3 separate regions of the Homo sapiens genome follow, and regions 1 and 2 are each linked to region 3. Evidence: fine-mapped expression QTL. A gene starts in region 3. Each other region holds a variant in brackets. All regions are shown on one strand. Distances are between the middles of the regions.

The links.
Region 1: its variant is fine-mapped to the expression of COMMD10 in monocytes (Quach 2016, PIP 0.91).
Region 2: its variant is fine-mapped to the expression of COMMD10 in whole blood (TOPMed, PIP above 0.99).

The regions. Positions count from the first base shown.
Region 1 is chr5:116,268,701-116,276,700 of GRCh38, forward strand. The region is part of intron 5 of COMMD10 (COMM domain containing 10); the gene reads left to right. Among named protein-coding and RNA genes, the nearest start is that of MIR12130, 17 kb to the left of the region's middle. The variant T/A (reference allele first, on the strand shown) is at 3,828.
Region 2 is chr5:116,291,518-116,302,675 of GRCh38, forward strand. COMMD10 (COMM domain containing 10) reads left to right here. Exons shown (of 7, transcript NM_016144.4): 6 at 1-59; 7 at 934-1,770. The coding sequence ends at 972. Among named protein-coding and RNA genes, the nearest start is that of MIR12130, 41 kb to the left of the region's middle. The variant C/G (reference allele first, on the strand shown) is at 4,589.
Region 3 is chr5:116,079,054-116,089,995 of GRCh38, forward strand. It overlaps COMMD10 (COMM domain containing 10), which reads left to right and starts at 5,972. Exons shown (of 7, transcript NM_016144.4): 1 at 5,972-6,040; 2 at 8,444-8,534. The coding sequence starts at 6,000. RefSeq lists enhancers at 5,766-5,925, 6,219-6,513.

The DNA of each region.
Region 1 (8,000 bases), 190 kb after region 3:
TGCCCATCAGTGATAGACTGGATTAAGAAAATGTGACACACATGCACCATGGAATACTGTGCAGCCATAAAAAAGGATGAGTTTATGTCCTTTGTACGGACATGGATGAAGCTGGAAACCATCATTCTCAGGAAACTATTGCAAGGACAGAAAACCAAACACCGCATATTCTCACTCATAGGTGGGAATTGAACAATGAGAACACTTGGACACAGAGAGAGGAACATCACAAACCGGAGCCTGTTGTGGGGTGGGGGGAAGGGAAAGGGATAGCATTAGGAGATATACCTAATGTAAATGACGAGTTAATGGGTGCAGCACACCAACATGGCACGTGTATACATATGTAACAAACCTGCATGTTGTGCACATGTACCCTAGAGCTTAAAGTATAATAATAATAATTTAAAAAGATAAAAATGCTTAAACAGAAAAAAAATTGGTTTTTACTGTCATGAATTTTTCCCACGTTTATGTTTATTAACAACTGACACAAACAAAACCTGTACAGAAAGTACTCTTTATTATACACTTTATTTCAAAGTACTGAAATAGTGTTTTATGATCATAGTATTTCTAGAGGAAAGATTTTCTCCCAAGCCTTTAAGGGGAAAGCTAATCCACTTGGAGAAATTTTGGGCCACCCACCAAACCTGTGATTTCCTGCCCCAATTTATGAACCAAGTTATACTGAGATCGTTAAATGGTGTGATTTCTCCTTATGACTTTCACATTTTACTTTATAGGTTATATTGACTTTTAGATTTCAGGTAGTAAAATAAAAAATCTTATGCAGTTCAAGTTAGAAAAATTGGATTAGTCCAAGTGATATTTTCACCTGGTATTTTTTTTCAGGCATTTCAATGTTACTTTTTATTACATTTATAAAATTATATGTTTTAAATTGTATGGTTTTCCCTTATCTTTTTGAAAAATACCATACTGATTCATCTCAAATATTTTAGCCTCTTCTTAAGTTTCCCTTTCCCCTCAACTTTTCCGTAAGCGCACAAAAGAAAGTATTGATTTTTGCCAATTATTTTGGTTGCTGAGGTTGTAAGCCATCTTGGTTTGCTTACATGTAGGTTATTAAAGTACCCTTCCTAGTCTGACTTGCCAGTCTTACTTCTCTACCTTTTGTTAGAGGAATAAGGGATGAGGATGAGAGAATTAATATATATTTTTTACCCCATTTCTGCATATTTTAATCCCATCTCCAGAAACCAGGTTAATTTCACCTCTGTCACAAATTTGAAAGGAAGGGAAAAGATGTATTAATTGCCATTTTTATTGTTATTTTCTGACTTTCAAGCCTTCTAATCTAAGGTTAGTAAATGGACAGCATTTAAAAAAATATTCTTGTTATCTTGACATAATGAAGAATTATGTTTTTGAGTATTTTGTCCATTGTTTCTTATTTCCTACTTTACATTTTTATTTACAGCAAGGTTTTATCCTTTTACTAAAGGGAAGGAGATGGGATGAATGGCAGACTTTAACTGGATGCTTTATTTAGGCTTTTCGAAAGCAAAAAAAGTTTATACATTGTTACAGCTGGGTGTTGGGTTACAGGCTGTTTGTTATATTCATGTATTAGTTCCTGTTATTTTAACATTTTAAATATTTCATAATTGAAAAAGGAAAAATTAGACTGGGACCAGTTTATAGAAAGCTTTAACTTCTAGGCAAAAAAGGTAGAACTTTACAGTTGGTTGTGGAGAAGATATTGACTGTCTTTTGTAGAGAGTAGCATTTCGAAAAACTGAATTTGGCGTCTGTATTTAGAACGGTCTAGAGAATGGAGATACTGATGAAAAGGAATGTTAGCAAATTCAGCATTCTGATTTCTGAAAAATGAGTGCTTAGATTAGGTAGTGGCATGGGGACTAGAAAGAACAGGGATGCTGCTGCTTTGTATAATCATTCCCATTATATAAAGGTTATATATAAATTAGGACGGACACGGTGGCTCACACCTGTAATCCCAGCACTTTGGGAGGCCGAGGTGGATGGATCAGCTGAGGTCAGGAGCTCACGACCAGCCTGACGAACATGGTGAAACCCCATCTCTACTGAATACAGAAGAATTAGTTGGGCTTGATGGTGCATACCTGTAATCCGAACACTACTTGGGAGGCTGAGACAGGAAAATAACTTGTACCTGGGAGGTGGAGGTTGCAGTCAGCCGAGATCACACCATTACACTCCAGCATGGGCAACGAGCAAAACTCTGTCTCAAAAAATAATAATAAAGATTATATATAAATAAATAAAATCACACCATTTAACAATCTCAGTATAACTTGGTTCATAAATTGGGGCAGGAAATCACAGGTTTGGTGGGTGGCCCAAAATTTCTCCAAGTGGATTAGCTTTCCCCTTAAAGGCTTGGGAGAAAATCTTTCCTCTAGAAATATATGATCATAAAACACTATTTCAGTACTTTGAAATAAAGTGTATATTAAAGAGTACTCTCTGTACAGGTTTTGTTTATGTCAGTTTTTAATAAACATAAACATGGGGAAAATTCACATGATAGTAAAAACAATTTTTTTTCCTGTTTAAGCATTTTTATCTTTTTAAATTTTTATATATTTAATATATAAAATATATATAAAATATAAATATATATTTATATTTATGATTATATAAAATTCCTATATCTTTATATTATCATTTCCATAACCATTTTAGTAAGCATCCCCAAATAGAAGTTAGGGTGTATTACTAATTCTGCTTAATATACTTTGTATACTTTTGTTTCCTATCTCAAATCTAGTTTCTATTATGTAAGTATAAGTACCCTCCATGAATTGGGTTAACATTCTAAACCATGACCAGACTGAGAGCATGACGACTAATGTGGTTTTTACTCCTAAGCTACCAGTATGGAAGATCAACATTTAAGAAGGCATTAGTCATCTGTGCTGCTGAAAATAATGGTTTCACATTAGTCTGGACCAATTAGAAGGAGCCTATGTCTACTTGGAAGAGTTTGATTTGCAGCATAGTCCTTGGCTGCTTCTACAAGACTTGGCAAACTTTTGTTTAAGTCAGACCCTGCTTAAATGTCTAAAAGGAAACTCTTAGGCCATTATTTCCCCCTACTTTACATAATATTGCTCCATACAAACATTCCACTTTTACAAAATCATTTACTTTTTCCCAACTCTGTGATACAAATGAGTTATCTTTTCGTAACCACCAACCTCTCAGTTTTATATTTGTTAGCTCAGATCTGACATGAAAGTAAAAATTACTTATAACCACTTTGGGATTACACAAATTTAACCTGTTCCCATGTTGTATTCAGTCCTCTGTGAAATACGAGGGTACTTCAAAAAGGTCAAGGAAAAATTGAATTAAAATATAAAAATAAAAGATGCAAATTTTATTTCTCAACATAGGCTCCATTAAGGTCGAGACACTTTTCTAAGCGATAATACCAGCCATTTAGTCCATCCCTCATTTCTTTTGGAATTGAGGAATTTAGCCATGTCAGTGCAGTCTTTTTGTACCTTACTAACTGAAAAAAATGGGTATTCTTTATAGATATTTTTAAGATCAGGAAATAAAAAGTCAGAGGAGGCAAATCAGGTTTGTAAGGGGGATGCTTAATGGCTTCCTATTGAAACTCTTGTAAAATTGCTCTGTGTGATTAGAGGAATGAGCAGGAGCTTTGTCGTAGTGGAGGAGGACTCTAGTGAAGCTTTCTTAGGTGTTTTTCTGCCAAAGTTTTGGCTAATGCTCTCAAAACACTTTCATAATAAGCAGATGTTATCATTCTTTGGCCTCCCAGAAAGTCAGTAGGCAAAATGACTTGAACA[T/A]CCCAGAACACTGTTGCCATAGCCTTTGCTCGTGACTGGACCACTTTCATCTCTTGGTAGCCATTGTTCTGACTGTGCTTTGTCTTCAGGATCATACTGGTAATGCCATATTACATATCCTGTTACCATTCTTGGAAGAAATGCTTCGGAATCTTTATCCCACTCATTTAAATTTTCATTGAAAGCTCTGTTCTTGTCTGCAGTTGATCTGGGTGTTGTAAGAGTTTTGGCATCCATCTAGTGGACAGTTTGCTGAACTTATTTCTCAATCACAATCGTGTAAGCTGAACCAATTGAGATGTCTGTGGTGTTGGCTCTGGTTTCTGCTCTTAATTTCGGTTCTCTTAGGGCATGAACAAGATTATTTTTTTCCTCTCAAATGGATGTGGATGGTCTGTCACTGTGGGCTTCATCTTCAATGTTGTCTCGTCCCTTCTTAAAACAAGTTATCCATTTGGAAACTGCTCATTTCTTTTGGGCATTGTCTCCATCAAGTCTTTATAAAACATCAATGATTTCACCACATTTCACCCACAATTCATCTTAAATGTGATGCTTGTTCTTGCTTCACTTTTAGAAGAATTCAGTTTGCTCTGATAGGGGCTATTTTTAAATGAATGTCCTATCCTTCTTAGTGCCTCAAACTAGATCCTGTTCAGACATACTGTAAAAAGTTAGTATATTTTGGTGCAAAAGAATTTTGAAATCCATGCATAGTTTTTTCATAATATGCATTTTTCATGAGCTTTTTGAAGAACCCTCCTTGTAATGTATCTTAATTCCCTATTCCATTAAATCTATGATTTTGAACCAGCCATATGTGACCTGTAATCAAAAAGTGATGTTTGATAGATGCTGTCACCATTCTGTCATTTTTCCTCATCCAAGATAGAAGATGTCTTCGAAAGCTTTGTATATGTTCCAGTCCTATAAAACAATTCTACAAAACAATTTCAAGTTCAAAATTATTATTGAGAACTTTTAAACAGGATATTTAGAAGTTTGTTTTATTAACTTGGCCTAGGTCACAAAACTCATTAATATTAATGACTAGACTACAGAGGCATGTAGCCTGTCTAAACATTAACAGATACAAAACATTAAACCAAATTGTGAAGCTTCGTTATGCTATGAGTCATTTCAGGCAAAGACCAATATAGCAAGCAAAAGCTGAACAGTCCAGTTGAAATGTTTCTGATCTAAGCCTTTGACTTCTGTTTGTAGATGAACTGGAGTTTTGAAACTGACACTCAAATTTTTTATTGACTTCATATGAATAAATGATTCATTAAAATATAATACTTGGAACTAAAGTCATCATTCAAAAAAGGCATTTATTATTAATAAACTACAGAAAAGAGAAAATTTGAGGGTACAATTTACTTTTTTTAAAGTATCTTAAAATTGCATTTATTTTCTCTTAGAGAACTTTAGATGATATCAGTCATTACTAATGTCATAAAATGTATGTAAATATGAGCTAAGTGATGTATTTTATTTACCCAAAGATATGATCTAACAGCCTCTGCAACTGTCACCAACCTTTCCTATAAAACAGCAATATATTAAATGATAGTGAAGAGGGTCTGAAATTTCAACCTTGAGATGCACTTACACTGTATTCAGTACAGCAGATTTATACTTCTACTTATATATCAACAACAGGTCTTTCTAACTGGCAAGTCTTGTGGTAAACATGAGAAATATGGATGCTTATTAGGTCACTTTTGGTAAATAGAACTAATAATTTGAGACATTTGTCTACAATAGAGTTTGGCAAACTTTCTTCTGTAAAACACCAAATAGTAAATTCTTTAAATTTGCAGACTATACAGCTCTGCTGTTACAACACAAAAGTAGGCTTAGACACTATATAAAAGAATGAGTGTGGCTGTGTTCCAATAAACCTTTATTTACAAAAACTGAAAGTAGGTCAGATTTTTCCCAAAAGCTGACAGCAGGTCACACTTGGCCTGCGGACTATCAATCCCTGAGCTACATTTGCTTGATTTTCTTACTGTATACTCATTCCTCTGTTCAGCTGGGCTTGGCTTTTCCCCATCACTGCACCAAAATACTTTTGCCAATATCAGTAACATTCTCATCATTGAATTAAAATGAACACTTACCAGTCCTTGTCTCATTTGGATTCTTGGGAGCAGTTGACATTCTAATCAATCTGTCCTTAAAATTTTTTCTTTCTTTAGTGTCCCTGACCTACCTCTAGTTTTTAACCCACCTCTCAAGGCAGTCTCTTAATTATTGGTGTGCCTTAAGGATTTATTATTGATCTTCTTGACACATTTGCCTTAAGCAGTACTTTGTGTTACTATAGCTCTAATTTCTGTCTGTTTTTCTCCCTCCTGAGCACTCTTAAGTATTAATCTGTAGCCCAGATTCCTAATTTAAATACTGAGTTTGTACATCTAATGGCCTGCTGGTATTTTCTACATGCTTATCCAAAGATACTTGGAAATACCTGTCTTAAACTGAACTTGAAATTCCCAACCTCTATTTCATCCCCAAGATTACTTCCCTCAACCCCCATTCTATCTCAATGAATGGCCCTACCCATCTTTCACTTGCCCAAGGCAGATACTTGTGCTTCATCTTTGATTCCTAACTCTTCATCTCACCCATGTCTTTCATTGAAAGAATCAGTTTTGTGGATGTACCTCCAAAATAGCTCTTAAATCTGTATGTGTTATAGTCTGTTGCTTCTATGCTAGTTCAAGCCACCATCATCACAAATTTAAATTACTAGTAGACTGCTCTGCTTTTCCCTTTCATGTTCTCTTTTGCTGGTGGGAATATCCCCCATCCTGCTTTATTCCCAATAATTTATCTTTCAGGTATCAGATTAGATATCAGTTCTACTAGGAATCCTTTATTGACTCCAGAATGTAGGTGTAGTGTTTGTTCTCTGTGCCCTATACTTTGCCTGTTAGGGCAAAGTATGTCATTTTGTAACCTCAGTTTATTTGTCTCTATTGGACTCGTAAGCTCAAGGAAAACAAAGATTGTACACATTGTCTTCATCATTGCTGTAACCCCAACACCCTAGCGTGTTGCTCGTAAATCTATGTTGAAAACAAGTGAAATTAGTCTCAATATCCATAAAATACACCATGTTCTGTATAAATCAAAGCACCAGAACATATCTGATGGCTTAATTTGCACTCAAAGTAAGTATATAATTAGAAAGTTGAATAAATTAATGAAATAAAGATGTCATACTTCACAAAGTTGTATGTAGAACATCAGATCCTAAATCATAAGGCATAAACTGCTAATGGCCAGATTTGCTTCACCATATGTTAATGAGCGTACAAGTAATCACTGTGCTTATAAGTAATATAAGTATCCCCTATTCTTATTTAATCCTGGCTCCTTTTAGAGGGAAAGTAAAGAAATAAACTGAAAAAAAAATGTATATATATATATATGGTACTACCCTTGACCTTAAGGAACACACTATGTTTTGGAAGCCTTCATTGTAAAATGATCGTAAGTACTAACACAGGTATTCTTACTGTGCTGTACAGCACCAAAGCAAGCAGCAGGTGGATAGGAGGGGGAGAGGAAATCAGGCGAGGTTTTGCAGAGGAGGTAACACTTCAGAAGAGTCTTAAAGTATCAGTAAGACATTGCCAGAAAGAAAAATAAAAATTAATTTCAAATAAAATATATATAAGCATGTGAAGCATGATTGAGAAATATCTTCTTTTTTTTCTTCTTTTTTGAGATGGACTTCTGCTTTTGTCACCCAGGCTGTAGTGCAATGGCACTATCTCAACTTACTGTAACCTCCACCTCCCAGGTTCAAGCAATTCTCCTGCCCCAGCCTCCCAAGTAGTTGGGATTACACCTGGCTAATTTTTGTATTTTTAGTAGAGACAGGGTTTTACCATTTTGCCAGGTTGGTCTCAAATTCCTGACCTCAGGTGATCCACCCACCTCAGCCTCCCAGAGTGCTGAGATTACAGGCATGAGCCACCATGCCCAGCCGTATCTTCTTAATTGTCAAAGGAAAATCAAAGTGTGTTAGTAGCATTATCATATATTATGTTTTTGTGTCATACATGATTTTTTTATTCTAAATTTTAAAATCTAACCTTAATTCAGTTATTTAAATTAAGATACAAGCCTTGCTAAACAGAATTTTTACTGATA
Region 2 (11,158 bases), 210 kb after region 3:
GCCTGGAGAAAGTTCTTGTGGAATTCAGTCACAAGGAGTTGTTTGATTTCTATAACAAGGTCTGTATTTTTAAAATAATTTTCTAATATGTGGAGTTTTTTTCATAATATTTTGTTTCATTTTATGAATTCTTATTTTTAAATGTCATATTATGGAACTAAGTTCTTTAAACTTCCCTTATAAAAGACCTTATGTTTCACAGGAGGAAGTATAGCAGAAATGAAGAGAATTTGAAAAACTAAATCAGGAAGAAAAGGAAAATAGTTTTAATTAAAGCAATAGGATTGTTGCTTTAATATAAAACATTAAGTAATGAACTTTGTGATTCCTAGCCACACTGACACTTTAAATATATATAATGTCAAATACTTTAATTTCTGGGCCCAAGGGTAAAGGGAAACATGCCTTTAGAGATTTATCTGTGAGTATATTTCATGTCTCTTTCTGAAGACTGATTTTGTAATCCAGGAAAATATACTCCCTCCACCCCCCAACTTTAAAATATTATCAAGTAGGCAGTTCTTCTGCCAGTGTACTGCCACTGGAGCATGCGTGTGGTTATCCTGTTCAGCCCACCACCACTGTACCCACTCCCTCATATGTAAGCCTCCAATAAAACCCCATGTCTCATTAAAAAAAAAATTATGGAGTGATAATTTAAAAGGAAACAGCTGAAGACACTTAAAACAACAGTATTAAGAAATCTTCTTTCTTTGAAAATTTGAAAACTTAAATTTTCAAGCACAAATTCTAATATCTTCACCTAAAAAGAAAAATATTCTAAGTGGTAATTTTATTGCTATGTGAATGGATTTAATATTCATAGTTACCAGTGCTATTTTTTCCTTTCTATTTGCATGTGTCTGAATAACACTTGATATGAGTTTCGTTCCCTTCACTAACGTCTTTTTTTTTTTTTGTCTTTGTAAATAGCTAGAGACTATACAAGCACAGCTGGATTCCCTTACATGATGTTTTCGAAGACTGTTTTTTTCATCACGCTCCTGCCACCTCATTATTTTGCATTGAAGATACATTGCCAGGTTGTGTTTTCTGAAGGATTCAGTGACTTGCTTTCTGTAAATTATATGGCTTATCACTTCTTAGACAAATAACAACCAATAGAGATCATTGTTAAGAATACTGAGGTTCTAATATACTTTCTTTAGTTCTGTGAGCCAACAGTAATTATTAAGAACACTTTCCCTTTAAAGGAAACAAAAGTGAATACCATATTGTTTTTACTGTCATAGTGTTGCTTTCTTGCCTGTCCTGCTTAGTTTTTACTTGCTGGATGATACCATAATGTATCAAGGAGCGTCCATGGATACAAGATAAGATGTGTACCTTAGTAGAATACAGAGCTTTGGTAATTACATGAATAAAATTAAGAAAATAGCCATATACAATCAAATACACTATGGCATTTTTATTTGAATATGATGAGTATATTTTGCTTCGGAAATAATATAGGAAGGAAATGTAAAATAGTGAGTAGTATGGTATCAGTTAATTCCAGTCTGAGCTTCTCTGTCAACTTCAGTTTCTCTCTCAGTTTAATGATTTAATAATAGTCCAGGTTTTTGTGTGTTTTTCTTTATACTGCAAATTAATAATGATTCACTTTATAGTTTGGGAGACAGAATCAGGTCTTGAATAAAATAATTGTAATGAGTGCTAAATGGGCACCATTATTCGAATCAGATACCTTTTATATTCTCTTTCCATAAATACGTTGATTTCTGTCAATAAAATTTTTGTGTCTTAGGATTGGTTGAAGTGTACATTTTTTAATTATATACATTATAGTATATTTTATGCCATGAATGTATGTAAATGAATACATTTACGTACATTTGTTAAAATGTATGTAATGAATACATTTACATACATTTGTTTAAAAAAAACTTGAATTTTTTATGAATGAAATTTCTGTATTGTTTCCAAAAAGAGAGAGATTCAAACATGACTTGCTTCACATGAAGAAATTTGATTTCAGAAATGTCCTATATTTAAATAAGCAAAGCCATTGAAATTGAAGCACATTTCTTATTTGAAGCATCTGGGAAATACAACTGTTAAGTATCTCTCAAATATTCAGTATATGGAATTTATACCCACATTTGTTTGTATATCTATTTGTAAGCTGTTGCTTAGAAGAATTGAGAGTTTGGATTATTTCAGAATACAACTATTACAGTTTTCCATAGTTGATTGAAAGTTTTTAAACTCAAACTTTCATTGGTAGAATATCTGGAAGGCATGTTTGCAATATAATGTGGCTTGTAGGATCTCTCCTACTTTTTTACGCTCTGTTTTGCCAGTTCTCAAAAGTAAATACCTGAAGTCCTAGAGGTACTATAAACATTTTGGTAAACATTCTTTGAGACTTTTTCTCATGTACATGTAAATATACATCATCCCAAGTTAAATTTGATAGGCCTTCCTGACAGTAGCCATATAGATAAATAGAAGTTTTCGTTGGTTTAGTGGCAAAACTGAATTCTTAATGTAGGTATACAAGTTAAATATGATGGTTAGAAATGAAGTTTTCTGAAAGTAGTTCGTTGTATGCTCCCTAAAAGAATTAGCTTTATATTTATCTTAAGAATATCTCTAAACCTATGCAAAAATATGGCAAATAGTCTTCTTTCCATTAGTCTAGTTCAACAAAATCTGACTCAGAGACAGTAAAGAAAGGGCAAGTAGAAGATCTAATGCCAACTAAGAAGATAATTATTTCTGAAATATTTAGTTGAAGATAACTTTCTTTCTTAAGACATTACTGTTGTTATGATGCACAAGTCAAAGAACATGTGGCATTTCCAAAGAGTATTAAATGCATGTTACTTTTTTATAAAAATAAGATAAATGAGATTAATGGGGCTTGGAACTGCAATCTTGGTAAATAAAGTTACTGTATGTCTTTCACGAGTGTGTGACATGAGGATTGAATAGACAGAATTGCTTGTTAGAAAGAGGAACTAATTTTTGTATCTATTACAAATTATATTTGTAATTCTTCCCTAATTATAAATTATCATGATTATTTTTATTTGGGAAATACCAAAAAATCATAAATAACTAATCTAAACTTACAGAATCCTATCATCCAAAAATGGCCATTAATGACAGTTTGATAGATTTATTGCAGTTTTTTTGTATCCATTTATCTTTCTTGTTCATTTTTTCTTCTTTCCTAACAAATTGAAGTAATGCCATAAATTCTGTTTCATACTTTGCTTTATGTACCCTTACAGCATGAACATTTTTCATATCTTTATTGCCCAAACATAATTTTAATGTATATTAAATAGTTCATCATTTGAATGATCTATACTTTATATACTTTATATTTCTCAAAATAATTAAATTGTCCAAATTTTGGCACATTTAGATTATTCAAATTTTTGAACGTAGGGAACTCACTGATAAATATAATTATACATAAACCCTAGACCACATCTCTCGTGATATTATTAGTATAGATTCCTAGAAGTAGAGTTGCTATGTCAAAAGTATGAAGATTTATTTTCTATTTTCATCTTTAATCGGATTTTCATTATAAAAAAACAAGGCCAGGTGTGGTGGCTTATGCCTGTAATCCCAACACTTTGGGAGGCTGAGGCAGGAGGATCACCTGAACCCAGGAGTTTGAGAACAGCCCACGCGACATGGCAAAGCCTTATTTCTATAAAAAAATACAAAAATTATCCAGGCTTGGTGGTGCATGCCTATAGTCTCAGCTACTCAGGAGGCTGAGGTGGGAGGATCACCTGAGCCCAGGAGGTTGAGGCTGCGAGTCATTCTATCATCCCACTGCACTTCAGCCTAGGTGACAGAATGAGACCTTTTCTCATACATATATATATAGCTGCCCATTAAAACAAAGTTGCACCATTTTGCCATCTCACTTCCTGGAAGTACCTACCTAATACTGCAGACATTTGGTGGGTGCAGTAGCTCATGTCTGTAATCCTAGCACTTTGGGAGGCTGAGGTGGGCAGATTGCTGGAGCCCGGGAGATTGAGACCACCATGGTCAACATAGTGAGTCCTGTCTCTACAAAAAAAAAAAAAAAAAAAAAAAAAAATAATAATAATAATAAATTAGCCAGGTGTGGTGGCACACACCTGTGGTCCCAGCTACTTGGGAGGCTGAGGTGGGAGAACTGCTTGAGCCCAGGCAGTTGAGGCTGTAGTGAGCTGTGATCATGCCACTGCCCTTTAGCATGGGCAACAGAGCAAAACCCCATCTCAACACACAAAAAACCAGACATCTTATAATACAAATATACACACCTCTTGTGTATTTTCAAAAATACATTTATATTTATTTCAAGGCCTTTGATATATATTGCTAAATTGTTTCTCCAAAGGATTATATTAATTTGTACTCCCACAAACAATGAATGAGAACTCACTTGCCTCAAGCCACCTTCAGCAGCCCCTTCTTCCTTCTATACATTTCACCCTCAACATTTTTTATAACCTGAGGTCAGTGTTTGTTTAGGAAGAGTGATGGGACATATTGAGATATGTCACTTTGATAACTATAGAAGGATTGAAAAGGAAATCTCTTTAAAAAT[C/G]AAATATGAGAGCCAATAACTCAGTATTCAAGTGTAAGGGCTTCGAAGTCAGGCATTTATTTATTCAACAAGTAATCACTGCTGAGTATGGTGAATATGGTGGCAGGAACTGTGTATGCTAGGTACCATGTTTACAGTGATAGGCAAAACTAGTTCTTGGCCTCTTGAAATGTAATGTGTTAGTGAAAAGTAAACAAATATGGAATAAATGAACAAATATGGGACAAAATATAATTGGATTCTATTCAGAGAAAATTAATGATGGAACCAAACTTGGACTGGGGCATCAAGGAAGGATTCTCTGAGGAGTGAGATTTGAGCTGAGTCCAATATGATGAGTTAAGATGGCACAATAGTAGAATAGAGTGACAGGCATTCTAGAGAGAATGGCCCATGCAAAATCTCAGAGGATGGGAAAGGCTTAGCGCATTTCAGGAACCAAAAGGTCAGTGTGGCTAGAGTGTAGTGAACAGATGGCATAGTGGAGTGCACTACAATTAGGTAGACAGGGAGCCATTCTCTTACAAGTTTTGTCGTTTTTACCACCAAAATGTATTGCAAGTGTATCTCCAGGGCACTACCCTGTCCAAGCTGCCATCAACTTTGCCCTGGACCACCTTTCTTCCATTCTAGCCCTCCTCCAGTCCAGTCGTTGTACAGAGCTAATTTTTAAAAAATAACCTATTAATTATACCATCTCCCTGCCTAAAACCCTTCAAAGGATCCTATTACACATTAAGTAAAATTTAACGATCTGGTTTCTCAGGACAGTGCAAAGGTTATATCCTTGTTCTTCTACTTTGTGTGTGTGTGTTGAGCAAGTTAATTTGTGAAAGTTCACTTTACTTATCTTTGTAATAGGAATAATAATCTAACTAACATGAGTGTTTTGAAGATTAAGTGAAATTCATGTTAAACATTTAGCATAATCCTTGAATCTCAATCATATAATAAGCATTAGCTGACATTTTTATAATCATTAAGAAAATAAGCAGACTCTCTGTTGAAATTTTTCCAGGTGAAGTTTGAATTAGAGTCAAAATTGTAGAAAGCTTGCTATGAAGCCCCTTCACTTTAAACTTATTTGGCATTCTAATAACAACTCCATTTTATAATCACAGATTCTAACACAATGCCAATTCTGCTTTTATTTTTTATTTAAAAAATGAGGTAATACATGTATTATGGGACCAGAATGAAAAAAATACTTTCTTCTGAGTACCTTTCCACGTGGCTCTTCTGGCTCTGAGAAATCTTTTTCTCTACTCAGTGAACTTTGATTTCTTCTTACCGTAAATAATGTCTTCTACACTTTATTCATTATACCAAGGATCAGCAAATGATGGACATGACCCACCACTTGTCTTTGTAAATAAAGTTTTATTGGAACACAGTTGTCTTGCTACCAAACTCACTCTTGAGACTTTCTCCCTTCCTTGCTTTGAAGAAATAATACCATGTTATAAGAGAGGCTGCGGATAGGGCTACATGACAAGGAACTGAGGGTGACCTCTAGGGGCTGAGGGAGAACAGCCAGCAAGAAATTGAGGCCCTTAGCCTTATAGCCTCTATGAAATAAATTCTGCGAACAACCTTGAATTAGCCTGGAAATGGGTTTTCTTGTCGTTTTTTTGTTTGGCTTTGTTTTGTTTTTTTCCCTGTTAAGCTTCTGGATGAGAGCACAGTCCAACTGACTCTTATTGCAGCCTTGTGAGATTTTAAACAAAGGACCCAACTAAACTATGCTTGAACTCTACCCATGGTAATTGTGAGATGATAACTCTGTTGTTTTAAACCTCTAACTTTGTAGTAATTTGTTACGCTGCAATAGATAACTAAAACAACAGCCATGCTCAATTGTTTACATATGGTCTGTAGCTGCTTTTGAACAACAGCAGGGTTGAGTAGTTGCAGCAGAGACCATATGGCCCACAAAGCCTAAAACCTGGCCCTTTATAGAAAGAAAGGATGCAGAACCCTGCTTTATACTATGCTCTCTAAACCGGAGCATCCCTAGAGAAATAAAGTAGTTGGTAGGGAACACAAAAAGTCGTAAGATGGACGTTGTATATATTTCAATAGCATCACTTCTACTTTTTGCCAGAAGTAGAAGAAATTACATTTTCTATCCTCTTTTGCAGCTACTGCAGCCGTGGAACTAAGTGTTGCTAATGAATTGTGAATGGAAGTGATCATTCATCTCCAGTTGTCTTCCTCTTTCTGTGATTGAAACCCAGATTTGGAGCTGAGTCAGCTTTGAGCAGACAAGAATGCTAATGCTTAAGAGGTAGGGAGCAACAAGATGGAAGGAACCTGGGTCCCTGAATATACTTATAGAACACAGCTGTCTCCATGCCCTTGACAGAAATAAAATATCTTGTTTGAGTTATTAAATTTGGGGTCAGTTTAGGCTATACACAGCACGTTTGCCTGTAGCCTAACTAATATGGTGGCAACATAATTTTATTATAATTGGCCAGTAATGTACAACATATTTTAAAATGGAGATTTACATTTTATGGCAAAATGCATATAAATGTTAAAGAGGAAATGGGAAACCTTAAAAAACAGAACAAAACCTTTGTGCTTGCAGCCTGCGAATTCAGGCTAAATTCTCAGTGTTACTGGGAACCTATATTCACCTCCCTCCTTCAGTGTGGTTATTTTGAGACAAATGTTTTGAGAAACCATAAGGGTATATTGTAAATTTCCCCCAAAGTCTTTCCATAATTCTTTTTCTACTGTTGAATAAGAGGACTGGGATGGTTCTGATTTATTCAGATGCATTAGTCAGAAGCTACTCAGGAATTATAATTTAAATTTCTGATCAATTTTGCTTCCCTAAAACTTTGATTTTTTTTTTGCCATCATTATGCAAATAGTCCTACTCAATAGACCAGCTTCATTTAATGCTAAAATTAGGAACACATTAATTTGAGGTATTTTATAGTAAAGCTTAATGGCATTTTTAATTTTGGAGAATTTTAAGGATTTTTAACCATTGCTCCCATCTCGCCATATGCACACTCCTGAAGTATTTTTGAAGCTCTTTTGCTTTTCTCTGAACTATAAGGTTGTACTAGCTGTTATGGAGGCCTACAATCCAAATCTAAATGATGGCAGTTTTCATAGCCTACTTTGTTTTATTTGAAATGGAAAGTTACTGATTTTTATTTCAAAAGAAGTAGTCTGCAAAGACAGGAAAGGTGAAGCCAGTCCAGTCAACAAATCTGTAAGGAAGATGGTGCTAGAGGCTTAGAGAGACTGTTTCAATCTCCAAGGCAGGAAAAATAATGAATATATAATAATCTTCTTTTAGTGAAACCAGAGTTCAGTCATTTTTAGCATCTTTTAATGAGAACCTGATTTTTTAATGATTTTTAAAGATTTTTCCTTCAAAAAATCTAGGTAAAGGAAAGCAGTTAATAGTAAATTTAATAGTTGCATTTATTTTTTTCTGACTTATGTTTGTATTTTTTTAATTGGCAAATAAAAATTAAAAACACTGTACATTCTACCCAAAACTTTAAAGGAAAGTCAATAATAAAGTTTTTTAAATCTATGATAAATATAGACTTGCTGTAAGGCAAGGAGTGCAGTGATTTCTCAAGGCCTTTCCTCATCTCTCCTTCTGAGATTTCTAAGTTTCCTTTGTGCACTATTTTTAGTCCACATTTCAAATTATTCTGCAGTTTCAACCAGACTACATAAGGGGACAAAGGAAAAAGCTGCTGTCCCCTGGATAAGGCTGCTTTAACACATCAACCTTGGAAGCTCCAGCATTCCTCTCCATCCCAAGAATGTGTTTATGCTTTGACAGAGGAGCAGAGTAATTTCCAGCTGATCAGAGAAAAGGTGACTTGTGTATTCCAGACCATGTGTTCTACTTTGCAGTCCAGCTTCTTACTCTCTTTCATGCTGCTGCAAGTAGTTCTACGAACATTGGGGTGCTTTAGAAATACTGAATGAATGAATTAATAGAGTATGTAGTTTTTTTCTGCCTTGGGCTCTCTCCATTTATTTGCACAGTACTATCTAAATTCTTAAAATAATTGTAAACTTAAAGTTGTACAAAAGTAGTTTTCAAACTGGTTTAGCCAGCTATGCTGGTATTTGGTAATTCCATTAGGGAATAGCCACATCCCTTCTAGGGAGTATCTCCTGAGGTCACTGATCCTTTTATTCATCATCCAGGAGATAAACATGAGAATAAAAGCCTTATAACCAGCCAGAGACCCAGATTTCTGCCCTCCAGAAGGCTAGAGCAAGTTCTCGCATTGCTGTGAAGAGATTTATGATAGTCATGAAGTTGACCTACACATGCTTCTGGGTACTGATGCTGCAAGACTGAAAACAGTTACATTCCTAGCAATTTCAGAGTTGTTTTATGTGATAGGGTCAAAATGAAGTGCTCCAGAGAGACATCAACAACATTCTTATACTGAAATATATGTTCAGTGTGTATAGATTTTCTGAGCTCATTACCCAGAAGATTTTAATTTCCTGCTGAAAAGAGTATCTTGATTAAAGACACACATAGACACACACACACACACACACACTCCTGTACACACTGCCTACAAACAGGCTTTCCTCACTGATGTGGGACAATTCTGACAAAGTTTTTTTAAGTCTCCCTTTACATGGCACAGATTGTTCCAACTTATCACAAATATACCAGCTGGACAAAAATCAGATAAAGTTGACATAGATAGTACAGAAAGCAGGCAAGATAAACAGAGCCACACAGAAAGCTGTTCAGTAACAGTTTAGTTTAATTTTATGCAACTAAGACTGTGCCTTTAGATGTAGAGCCCAATGTGAGGGATCAGTTTCTTATGATAGAGTAATATTTATAACATCTAACTTTTCTACCTTATGGCAGAATGCCCTGTGAATCCTTGAAACTCAAGGCCTTCTTTGTCAGAGTTTTGGTTCTTACTGCAAAGTATGTTCTTTCCTTATGTCATCCAAACAAAGTAACTAGAGTAGTAAAAAGAAAGTCAGTGAGTTTGGATGCATTGGCTTTCTGGACTTGCAAATTATCCAGTGCAGGCATTTCTCACACAGCAGGCTTGGAGGACTCTGGGGGTGGCCACCTTTGCTAGATATGCTATTAACCTCCTTCATATGGTTGGGTCAGTGATCTTGTAAAGTTCTGCTTGGCAGGCTCATAGGTGTTGATAGGTGCCCTAAACTGATGGACCAGTAGAGGGTGGCCACCATCTGTGAGGTTATTTCTTCAGGCCCTCAATAAGCACTTACCCAAATGCACTGATTTTACAGTGCTGTGGTTCTGTACTGGATTCCATGAAGCACCCTTCCCGTCTCTGATTTTCCAGGATCATTTTCCTTAAGTTAATGCCATTCCTGTAAATGCATTTCTACTCTTTGATCCCTTTTCTTTAGTTTACACTTTCAGTTAAATCTGTAAGCAAGATAATCTTTGAAAATTATTTTAATTAATGTTTATATTTAGCTCTATAGTCTGTGTAAGGAGATCCAGGGTTACAAGAGTCTGCTTGAAAAAATAGAGCCACATCAGATCAAATTTTCTTTCCATAGGATTGTATTTTTTGAAATGTTAAAAATTCTCCTATAATTAAATATTTAAACCTTATTTCATCATTTTTCTAAGCGTTTTTACTTTAGGGTTTACTAAAGGAAGCCAAATCAATTTCATAAACTTCTCTGTATAGGATTTCAAATAGAACATTTTTATGGAAATAGGGTGAATATGTTATAGAGGAAGAAATGCTTCTGCCTCTCTGCCTACTTCCCTATTGGCCCTCTCTCTCGTTCTCCCACATCCTTTAGGGAAGAATGGCTTGCCATTCATGTTTGGTCAGTTAAAGTATTGGTTGGCCATGTTTATCGATGGCCAGATCAACCATAAAAAGACCATGCCCATGGATGGTGCTCCTTTTGCATTTCTTGTTTCCACTCTATGGGATGGAATAGAGAGAGTCCAGATTTTGAGGAGAAGCTGAGATGTGTGGGGAAGAGGGGCAGGTAGGGAGGGAGTGTCTTTCTTAGGCCTTAAGAATGAACCATATGCTCTTACCCAACCTTACCAAGCTCTGAAAGATAATTGTCATTTTGGTTCCCAGTTGCTATCAGTCTTCCTATGTGTAGCTCTTCTGGAAATGTCAGCATCAGGAGTGAATGGCAGGATAAGATTTGGGCATTTGTGAAGTTCTCTAGTCAGGTTCCATTAATGCAATCACAATTCCAGCCTCTGTCCTTTATCAGTCGTCTTAGCAGATCTGTCTTATTTTTCAGTGATAAACGTAGAGAGCTATGGGCAAAAACATCAAAGGTATCATTCATATCTTTCAATTCTCAAGTAGGCCTCGAGTAAGAGAAGAAGGCTTTGAAATCAGTTACTCTGACTCCCAAAGAAGACCTGCTTGACACTTCTAACTCTCCATTCTAAATGAGCAAAAATTTCATCTCCCTGAAAGCAGAGGGAAGACATTGCTGGGTCAGTTTCAAAGGCTCATTGGTTACCTTCCTGCCACAATAGACCATTGAGAGTCTCTGCTCCCCGTTCCTGGCATGGTGGAAACT
Region 3 (10,942 bases):
ACAGGGAGGGCTGACACCAGAACTTACTCCAAGTTGTGCCATGATGTACTCTGGGCAAACTAGGTGAATGTGAATTGAAAAAGCTGCACAGTAAAGACTGAAGCAGTTAGGGCCTAAGCACCTCTTGTTTTGAGACTCCACTAAAGGCTAGAACTGTCTCCAAGTTATGCCCCTCCCCAGGTAAGTTCAGCCCCACTTGTTTCCAAGGCTTCAGCATGTTGCTCTACTTTCCTGACAAAATGGCCCCTGGAAACTCTGACAGTTGCCATGGTTTAAAGCTCCTGTCACTCACTGCCACCCTTGGCAGGGCAGAGGGAGGGGGATAAGGAAGGGGCTATGGGCAGGGACTGAACCATGGGTTCCTCTTCTGCTATAGCTTCAGGACTCAGTTCCTATTCTATTGGAACCAGGGAAGCTCTGAATTTTCCAGTGGGGCTGCCTAGAGGCACCAGGTGACATATCCTAGAAATGCAGGAGCATGAGTTATAGGACAAATTTTGATGAAGAAAGAAAAAATTGGAAAGAGTTCACAGACAATTTCTTTCTTCCACTCCCACGCCATGTTGTTCCAAGACACAGTGATTCTGAATAGCCTCTCTGGAAATATCCCAGAGTACTGAGAAATAAGCTAGGTTTTGAAGCTGTAACCAGTTCGATAACATGCCACCCTGTATTTGCTTTCTCCTTACCTTTCCTTAGTTTCCCTTTTGCCTGCATTCCTACTCCCTTGCAATTATAGTTCCTGATGAAGGATGTATAATAACTAGGCTTGTTTTCTAGAAAAGTCAGGCTAATACAGAATGTAATAAAAAGTGGACTTCATAAAAGTTTGCAATGGATATTTTACTTGGCTGGCAAGATGGCCGAATAAGAACAGCTCCAGCATGCAGCTCCCAGCCAGACCAACGCAGAAAGCGGGTGGTTTCTGCACTTCCAACTGAGGTACCCGGTTCATCTCATTGGGACTGGATAGACAGTGGGTGCAGCCCACAGAAGGTGAGCAGAAGCAGGGTGGGACATTGTCTCACCCGGGAAGTGCAAGGGGTCAGGGAACTCCCTTCCCTAGCCAAGTGAAGCCTTGAGGGAAGGTGCCATCCGGCCCAGATACTACGCTTTTCCCAGGGTCTTCACAACCCGCAGACTAGGAGATTCCCTCAGGTGCCTACACCACCAGGGCCCTGGGTTTCAAGCACAAAACTGGGAGGCCGTTTGGACCGTGCTAGCTGCAGGAGTTTTGTTTGACTCCAGTGGTGCCTGGAATGCCAGCGAGACAGAACTGTTTACTCCCGTGGAAAGGGGGCTGAAGCCATGGAGCCAAGTGGTCTAGCTCAGTGGATCCCACCCCCATGGAGCCCAGCAAGCTAAGATGCACTGGCTTGAAATTCTCACTACCAGCATAGCAGTCTGAAGTCAACCTGGGACGCTTGAGCTTGGTGGGCGGAGGGGCGTCTGCCATTACTGAGGCTTGAGCAGGCGGTTTTCCCCTCATTGTAAACAAAGCCGCTGGGAAGTTCCAACTGGGTGCAAACCCACTGCAGCTCGGCAAAGCCACTGTAGCCAGACAGCCTCTCTAGATTCCTCCTTCCTGGGCAGGGCATCTCCAAAAGAAAGGCAGCAGCCCCAGTCAGGGGCTTATAGATAAAACCCCCATCTACCTGGGACAGAGCACCTGGGGGAGGGGTGGCTGTGGGTGCAGTTTCAGCTGACTTAAACATTCCTGCCTGCTGGCTCTGAAGAGAGAAGCGGATCTCCCAGCACAGCACTTGAGCTCTGCTAAGGGACAGACTGCCTCCTCAAGTGGGTCCCTGACCCCCATGCCTCCTGACTGGGAGACACCTCCCAGCAGCGGTGGACAGACACCTCATACAGGAGAGCTCCAGCTGGCATCTGGTGGGTACCCTCTGGGACAAAGCTTCCAGAGGAAGGGGCAGGCAGCAATCTTTGCTGTTATGCAGCCTCTGCTGGTGATACCCAGGCAAACAGCATCTGGAGTGGACCTACAGAAAACTCCAGCAGACCTGCAGAAGAGGGGCCTGACTGTTAGAAGGAAAACTAACAAACAAAAAACAATAGCATCAACATCAACAAAAAGGACACCCACATAAAAATCCCATCAGAAGGTCACCAACATCAAAGACCAAAGGTAGATAAATCCACGAAGATAAGAAAAAACCAGCGCAAAAAGGCTGAAAGTTCCAAAAACCAGAATGCGTCTTCTCATCCGAAGGATCACAACTCCTCACCAGCAAGGGAACAAAACTGGATGGAGAATGAGTTTGATGAATTGACAGAAGTAGGCTTCAGAAGGTGGGTAATAACAAACTCCTCTGAGCTAAAGGAGCATGTTCTACCCAATGCAAGGAAGCTAAGAACCTTGATAAAAGGTTACAGGAACTGCCAACTAGAATAACCAGTTTATAGAAGAACATAAATGACCTGATGGAGCTGAAAAACACAGCATGAGAACTTTGTGAAGCATACACAAGTATCAATAGCTGAATCAATCAAGCAGGAGAAAGGATATCAGAGATTGGAGATCAACTTAATGAAATAAAGCATGAAGACAAGATTAGAGAAAAAAGAATGAAAAGGAACGAAAAAAGCCTCCAAGAAATGTAGGACTATGTGAAAAGACCAAACGTATGCTTGATTGGTGTACCTGAAAGTGATGGGGAGAATGTAACCAAGCTGGAAAACACTCTTCAGGATATTATCCAGGAGAACTTCCCCAACCTAGCAAGGCAGGCCAACATTCAAATTCAGGAAATACAGAGAACACCTCAAAGATACTCCTCGAGAAGAACAACCCCAAGACACATAATCGTCAGATTCACCAACGTGGAAATGAAGGAAAAAATGTTAAGGGCAGCCAGAGAGAAAGGTCAGGTTACCCACAAAGGGAAGCCCATCAGACTAACAGCGGATCTCTCTGCAGAAACCCTACAAACCAGAAGAGAGTGGGGGCCAATATTCAACATTCTTAAAGAAACGAATTTTCAACCCAGAATTTCTTATCTAGCCACACTAAGCTTCATAAGCGAAGGAGAAATAAAATCCTTTACAGACAAACAAATGCTGAGGGATTTTGTCACCACCAGCCTGCCTTACAAGAGCTCCTGAAGGAAGCACTAAATATGGAAAGGAAAAATCAGTACCAGCCATTGCAAAAACAGACCAAAATGTAAAGACCATTGACACTATGAAGAAACTACATCAACTAATGGGCAAAATAGCCAGCTAGTATCATATGACAGGATCAAATTCACACATAATATTAACCTTAAACGTAAATGGGCTAAATGCGCCAATTAAAATACACAGACTGGCAAATTGGATAAAGAATCAAGACCCATTGGTGTGCTGTATTCAGGAGACCCATCTTGTGTGCAAAGAAACACATAGGCTCAAAATAAAGGGATGGAGAAATATTTACCAAGCAAATGGGAAGCAAAAAGAAGCCGGGGTTGCAATCCTAGTTTCTAGCAAAACAGACTTTAAACCAACAAAGATCAAAAAAGACAAAGAAGGGCATTACATAATGGTAAAGGGATCAATGCAACAAGAAGAGCTAACTATCCTAAATATATATGCACCCAATATAGGAGCACCCAGATTCTAAAGCAAGTTCTTAGAGACCTACGAAGAGACTTAAGACTCCCACACAATAATAGCAGACAACTAAAAGGACTTTTCATGGACATAGATGTCTATATTCCAGAGAATGCAGAAATATCTTGGGTGAGGTTCTCATTTGAGGTGTGAAACTATTCACAGCATCACGCCTTTATAGAAACATGGTAATAAGAAGTAATCAGCCCATCATTGAAAATGAAGAGCATTAGAGTGAGTCGCCTCTGTGTCCACTGGAGACTTGCTTTTGTGAACACCTAAGAGGTCTGGGTTTTGTTTTCTAAGGAGGGTAGAATGTTTCTTTTACATACGTACCACATTATTTAAATCTCATTAAGATCCAAGGGAGCAGACATTATTCTCATCCCCATTACAGATTGGGAATGAGAAACTTGTTGAGGTTAAGTACTTTGTCCAAGGTTACATGGATTTGGGATTTGAGCCATCTTGATGCTCTTTTGCTCAAAATTCTGGCTATATATTTTTAAGGCAATCAGAGGGTGAACTTCATTAGGGATTTGAAACAGTTTTAGTTGGTTAGTGGTTCTACTTCAGGTAAGGAATCAAGACAAAAGGGAAATGATTCAAAGAATGAGGGAACTGGGACCCTTTTAAGTTGCAGATGAGGTCATCTGTGTTTGGATCAGAGACCTATAATTTATGTAGATTCACATACATCTTTTTCAGATATGCATACATTGGGGACTGTAGAGTGTTGTGGAACTAAATGTATTTGTATGTGTTCAACACACTGTATAATTGACTCAATTATCCATGTGGAGATTATTCAGATTTAATGTGCAATCTGGTTTCTCCTTTCAGTTAGGTTGTTCTTGGGCTGCTCCAGGAACTCCAACTAATTTAAATAATAATTTAAGTAAAACATAATTAGGAAGGAAAATTAAATTCAATTTTTTGGCAGCTCTTGAATATTCTACTGCTGAAACGTAACTAATCCATCCACTATCTTTTAATTCACCAATGCCTTTTTAGTACCACAGGATTTTACTGCTTTCTATAGATTATTGCAGTAGTTTCCAGGTAGCTCTCCTGCTTACCTCTTTCCATTTCAATCATCATTCTGCTGACAGCAACCTTCAAAAATCCAACTCCCACTGCAAAATTTCTTTGGTTCAAAACATTTAATGGATAGAAAAAACATTTAATGCTTACCCATTTCTCACCAGATTAAGTGCACATGCCACAACCAGTCATTAAAGGCTTTTTCTAGTCTAAATTCCTGTTCTTCAAACGTCAAACCGCCCTTCTACTCTACTGACCTGAAACACACAGCCTCACCCTCCACATCTCTGCAGACCCACCGCATTTGCCACCTGCCCTAGGGAGCTTTTCCTGATCTTACCTCGGATGCCTTTCACTGCTCCCACATCTGAATTCCTTTAACTCACTCCATGTTTTTCTCAAAGGCAGACCAAGGTATTTATGCAAACATGGTGTCTCCCTAGTCTTGGGTGAGGTCTTTGACATCACTCACTGCAGCGATTCATCTCCCCTACTCTGCACTGTCAGACTCTAAAGAAGGGTGCAACAAATACTTGTCCATTTAGACTGCCGGCAAACCCTGAGGGCAGGAATTTTGGCCTTTTGTATCTCCAGTGCCTAGAACAGTGCTTGGTACACAGTAGGCACTCATTCATTGAACGTTGCTGAAGGAATTGAACGTACATACTACAAGCCCTGCAGATGCAGATACAGGAGGGGTTGACGGCACAGTGCTTAGGGTGGAACTGGAGGCACCACCTCTCCTGAGGGGTGATGCGCCGCTTCCTGGGCAGGCTCGGGGGAGCTCGCTCAAATGCCTGCCTCTCTGTAGCCCAAACGCTGGAAAAAAAAATACTCACAAATCACCTATCCAAGTATGTACACACAGGCTCACTTAAACCCGCCCTATTAAAAAAATATACACACGCACACACCATTTATCCAAGTATGTATACACGGGCTTGCTTAAACCTGCCCTATTAAAAATAATAATGTATATATTTATGCACGAACATACACACATATATCTATACAGGTCTGTACATAGACTTGCTTAAACCTGCCCTATTAAATACAGACACACACCCCTATCCAGGTATGTACATACATATATAATATATAAATATAAAGACATATATATGCACAGACTTAACTCCAACACGATTGGAGTGTCGGGAGGGCAACTGGGCTGCCCTCTCCGCCCTCCAGGACTGCGGGACAAGTCTCCCGGCGCCCGGGTCGCAGGAGACCCGGAGCCCTAAAACGGCCCCTGCGCGGCTTGGGCCTTCCGGCTTTCCGTCCGCCGCGGCCGCCATTGGCTGGGTTCGGCGCAGCTAACAGACGGCGGCAGTGCGAGAAAGCCGAAGATGGCGGTCCCCGCGGCGCTGATCCTACGGGAGAGCCCCAGGTAGCTGATCCGTTAAGCTCTTGCGGTAGCCGCGCCCAGGAAGGCCCAGATCGGGCTCGCACAAGGCTGTCCTTGCTGCCTGCCGCCTGGGCGCCGCGGCGGGCCCGGTTGAGTGGGGTGGGGTGGGGTGGGCTGCCGAGGTTGCGACGCTGCGTCTGCGGAGTGCGTGGGGCCGTGTAGCGCCTCTACAGTCACGGTGGTCCACCTGTGGGGCTCACAGTGCGCCTGGCAGCTGAGGTCTGTACGGAAGCGTGTGGTCTGCAAGCGTGGGGTCTGCGTCACTGTTCGCGGAGTTTGGTATCAGAAGTTCCCGGGTGCTGCCTTCAGTGCTGCCGAATCACGTGGAACGGTATTCCGTTTCCGATTTCAGTTCCGGTTCAGACACTCTGGTGGGAAAGGCTCACGCTGCTGCTGGAGGGTCTTTAATAGCCAACATGTGTTAATACCCCTTTTAAATCAGTATCGAATAGGGGACCGAATTTTTGGTTGGTAGAAGAATCTAGCCTGGCTTTGGTAGCATTTGCTTTTATTTGCATTTTAAACAGATTTTTAGTTAATTTCTACTTATGGTAGATAAAGTTGGTTGTCCATGGTAGTGATATAAAGCTCCCCTTTAACATTATTTAAGTAAAAAAAGACTCAATTTGTGAAAAAATAAGCAATAGTGCAGGTAGCGTGTGGATACAGAAAAAGTACTGAAGTATATAGGCAAAATAGTGTTCGGAAGTAATTTCTTTGTGCTTGGATTGGGTAGAAATCTTTCAGAAGAAAAGAGTTATTTTAAAGTTTTTCCTTCTTTCTGGATTCCTTTTGTTACCAGTGGAGGGTGTCCAGGTTCTTGGCGTCTTGAACAAAGAACTGGAGAAGACGCACAAAGAAAGCGAGGAAAGAATGAAGAAGACATTTATTGAAAATGAAACTACCCTCCACAGTGTGGGAGCTGCTTGAGCATAGGGGCTGAAGGGCCCCTACAGAATTTTTGGGAATTTAAATACCCTCTAGAGGATTCCATTGGTTACTTGGTGTACTCCCTATGTAAATGAAGAGGATGAAGTAAAGTTACAAAGTCATTTTCTCCGCCTATGCCATATGGAGAGGACATTTCTTGTCATAGCTGAAGTGGGAATCAGCTTTATGTTCCCAGCCTCCTGACCCTATTTTCCTGCCTCACTTTGGTTCTGATCGCCAGTTTCTTTCCTCATACCAGTGTCTTGGGGAACACCGCTACATCAGTAAACTGTATCCAATATGGTGCAGTATAGAATTGTTCTCATCACATCATTTAAAGTTGATTATTACAGGAAAGGTGCTGTGGCTCATGCCTGTAATTCCAGCACTTTGGGAGGCTGAGGCGGGCTAATCTCTCTCTCTTTTTTTTCCCTGAGAGGGCGTTTCCCTCTTGTTGCGCAGGCTGGAGTGCAATGGCGCCATCTCGGCTCACTGCAGCCTCCGCCTCCTGTGTTCAAGCGATTCTCCTCCCTGAGCCTCCTGAGTAGCTGGGATTACAGGCACCCGCCACCACGCCCAGCTAATTTTTTGTATTTTTAGTAAAGATGGGGTTTCACCATGTTGGCTAGGCTGGTCTGGAACTCCTGGCTTCGGGTGATCTGTCCTCCCTGGCCTTGCAAAGTGCTGGGATTATAGGGGTGAGCCACTGCAGGACTGATTGAGCTCAGGAGTTCAAGACCAGCCTGGGCAACAGGGCAAAACTCTGTCTCTACAAAAAATACAAAAATTAGCCAGCGCTGTGGCCCGCGCATGTAGTTCTAGCTACTTGGGAGGCTGAGGCACAAGGATTCTTAGAACCCAGGAGGCAGAGGCTGTAGTGAGCTGAGATCGTGCCACTGCACTCCAGCCTGGGTGACAGAGTAAGACCCTATCTCAAAATTGATTACTGTTGTAATAATAAATTTGATTTTACAGTTGAAACAGGGTTTTAAAATAACTGTGTGCTTAGTGACCCCAGATGATTTTGTACATAGTATTTGAAAAGTTATTTGCCTTGCAGTATTCTTTTATGTTTTTGGTGTAATTGCCATAATTGCTATTCCTCTCCTCCCACCCCTTTCAGAGTTCCATTTTTGGGTTAAGTGTTTATATAAACGCTCTACTAAATTAAGGCTCTTCCCTGCGCAGTACAAGGTTTCCCTAGTAGTTTGGTTTGCCCAAAAGAAAGAGAAAATTTGCCAAATGGACCTTTTCAGCAGAAGTAATTTTGGGGGCATCTTTTTGGAAATGTACCCGTTGCCCTGCCTTTTTTGCTGGCTGTCATCTGTTTTTATTTCACTCAGATTTACCATATAGCATTCAGAGTTGTTGGAATGAAAACTTATAGACAACTATAGAAAGTGCAGTTCAACTTGGAAAACTCATTTCAAAACTCTGTTTTATAATTTTGTTTAGCATGAAGAAAGCAGTGTCACTGATAAATGCAATAGATACAGGAAGATTTCCACGGTTGCTCACTCGGATTCTTCAAAAACTTCACCTGAAGGTTTGTATTTGTGTGTTTCCATGCCTTGTAATCTTCCTTCTGATTTAATTGAAAGTCTGATTATTTGGAGAACTTTTTGCAAAGCATAGTGTTCTCCAATATGTTCTTAGAGACACTGGTTCTGTGGAAGATTTGGTAATGTTTCATGGTCAGAAGTTTGAGAAACTCTGTCTTCAATAAAGTTAAATGTTTTAAATTATGGAACTTTTCAGAGTATTTTATATGCTAGTGTTTGTGGTATGTATTCGAGGGTGATTATGGCAGGTAACATTTTCCAAATGTGTTTGACCTTGGATCTGTTTTATTATGGTATATATTTTGGGACTAAAGTTCTAAAAATATACTTTAGGGAAAAATTCTGATGTCTTGGTTTTATTTTTCCGCTTAAAAATAATTCTGTGGTATTTTCTATCAACTGGTATTTAATCTTTCACTTAATTTTGTTTCTCTTTCACTTTTATTTTAAGGATATGGTTGTTTTGGACATGTGGATGCTTTGTAATTCTCTACCTGGCCCAATCCAAGTTAATTTAGTTAATTTCTTTATCAGGTTATAAAAATTTGATTCCATCTCATATTTATGGAGCACCCACTAACTGCTCTGTGCAGTGCCATGTATCACCATCCATTGAGAACCAAGACTCTTACTCTGTCATCTTGTTTTTCTTGGCCAAGAGCCAGCCTCAAAACTGTGCCTTTCCCCTTTGAAGTGTCTTTCAAATCCAAGTTCTCACAATTCTAGGTCAAATCTTTAGTACCTCTTTTTTAGATGACAATAGTTACCTTCAAGCTGGTTTCCCTGCCTATAGTCTTCTTGCTTTCTACTGCTTCATAATACTATGTAAATTACTTTCTAAATTTTTTTTCCTGAAACAAAGATGTATTATATTTTTTACAGTGTTCAAAGCCATCAGTGACTGTCCATTGCCCTATGGAGAAAAGTTAGAAATCCTTAACATTGCGTACAAGTCCCATTGTAGTATGGCTGCAGTCTACATTCTCCTCATTTTGTAAGTGCTGCAGTTACACTGGATGGTACCCATTTACTACAACTTGCCATGAACTTTTTCAGCAATGTGTCTATGCATATACTCTTTCCCTTGCCTATAAATGTCCTTCTTCCCCTTTACTGAGTAACTTGTTCATCCTTCAAGGATTTCACAATCTCAGTCTCAGCAGTTTGTTCTTTCTTCTGTGCTCCTAGTTCATTCTCACCTGATTTTAGTACTGCATCATAAGTATTTGTTTCATGATTAGCAGGCAACCAAATCCCCAAACCTATTAATGTGTCTTCCTCTGGTTTTAAATATCTTGAGGATTATGTCTTACTCATCTTTATGTTTCCCATTCCTAATACATTGCTACTAGTATAGTTGGCACTCAGTAAATGTTCTTGAAGTTAATTATTTTCCTTGCTGTGGAAAACACAAAACAAACCTAAGTCTTCTATAATATATTCCTTTTTCTAAGGAATTTGTGAGGTGGATGGAGAGAAAGGAGAAACTGCAATGATAGCGGCAACATTCTGTGGTATTTGCTGTTCATAAAGTTACATTGGCTTGTTTTTGACTGTTGTGGTGCTAATGGCTTTGTGTTACTAACTCATCTAATCCGTATGGCAACTTGAAAACATAGGTACTGTGGTCATCTCTGGTCATCTTCATTTTATCTATGAGGTAACCAAGATAGAGATAGAGATCAGTTAAGTAACTTTCCCAAGGTAACACAGCTAGCTAGTTGGGCAACTTGGCTCCGTAACTCTCTCCCTTATTACACGAAACCTCAGGAAAGAGTATGGAACATTTCATAAATTGGCCCAAAAGTGAATGATGTGGGTAATACAGATATTCTGCTTTATTTCTTCAGCTGGTGGGTGCTTGCTTATGTATAAAAATATGGGACAAGAAACTCTTATACATGTCTTTTGTTCTTCACACTGAGGGAGTGGAGAACTTGCACAGAAAATTGTGATGTTTAGTTTGTCTTTGACACTCTCAGTCATGTATGGAGTTGAGAATAGTTAGTATCTATCTTAGAGTTAACTGAGTGGCTAAAGCATTCCATGGAGGAGCTTGAATGCTTTGCCATCAGAGGTAGGGGAGTGGAGAGGAGAAGAGGTGCTTGTTGAAAAGTGAAGTTACCCGTCCTGCTGGCATTTAATGTCCAGGGACTTTTAAATAAAGAAACATATGTATGTGAATACTTGCCTGCTAAGAAGACGTCAGGAAAGGTCTAATTGTTTTTTTCCTGTACAGTTTCAGGGGATCTTCTTTTAGAGGGGCTCCTATTTTGATAAGGGCTTTTCAGTCAAGTTTGCAGTGCATTTCAGGATCTGCCTACTTTCATTTATGTATCCCGACTCCATCGAGTTGGCCTTTACCTTGAGACAGAATTCTTAGAATAGTGAA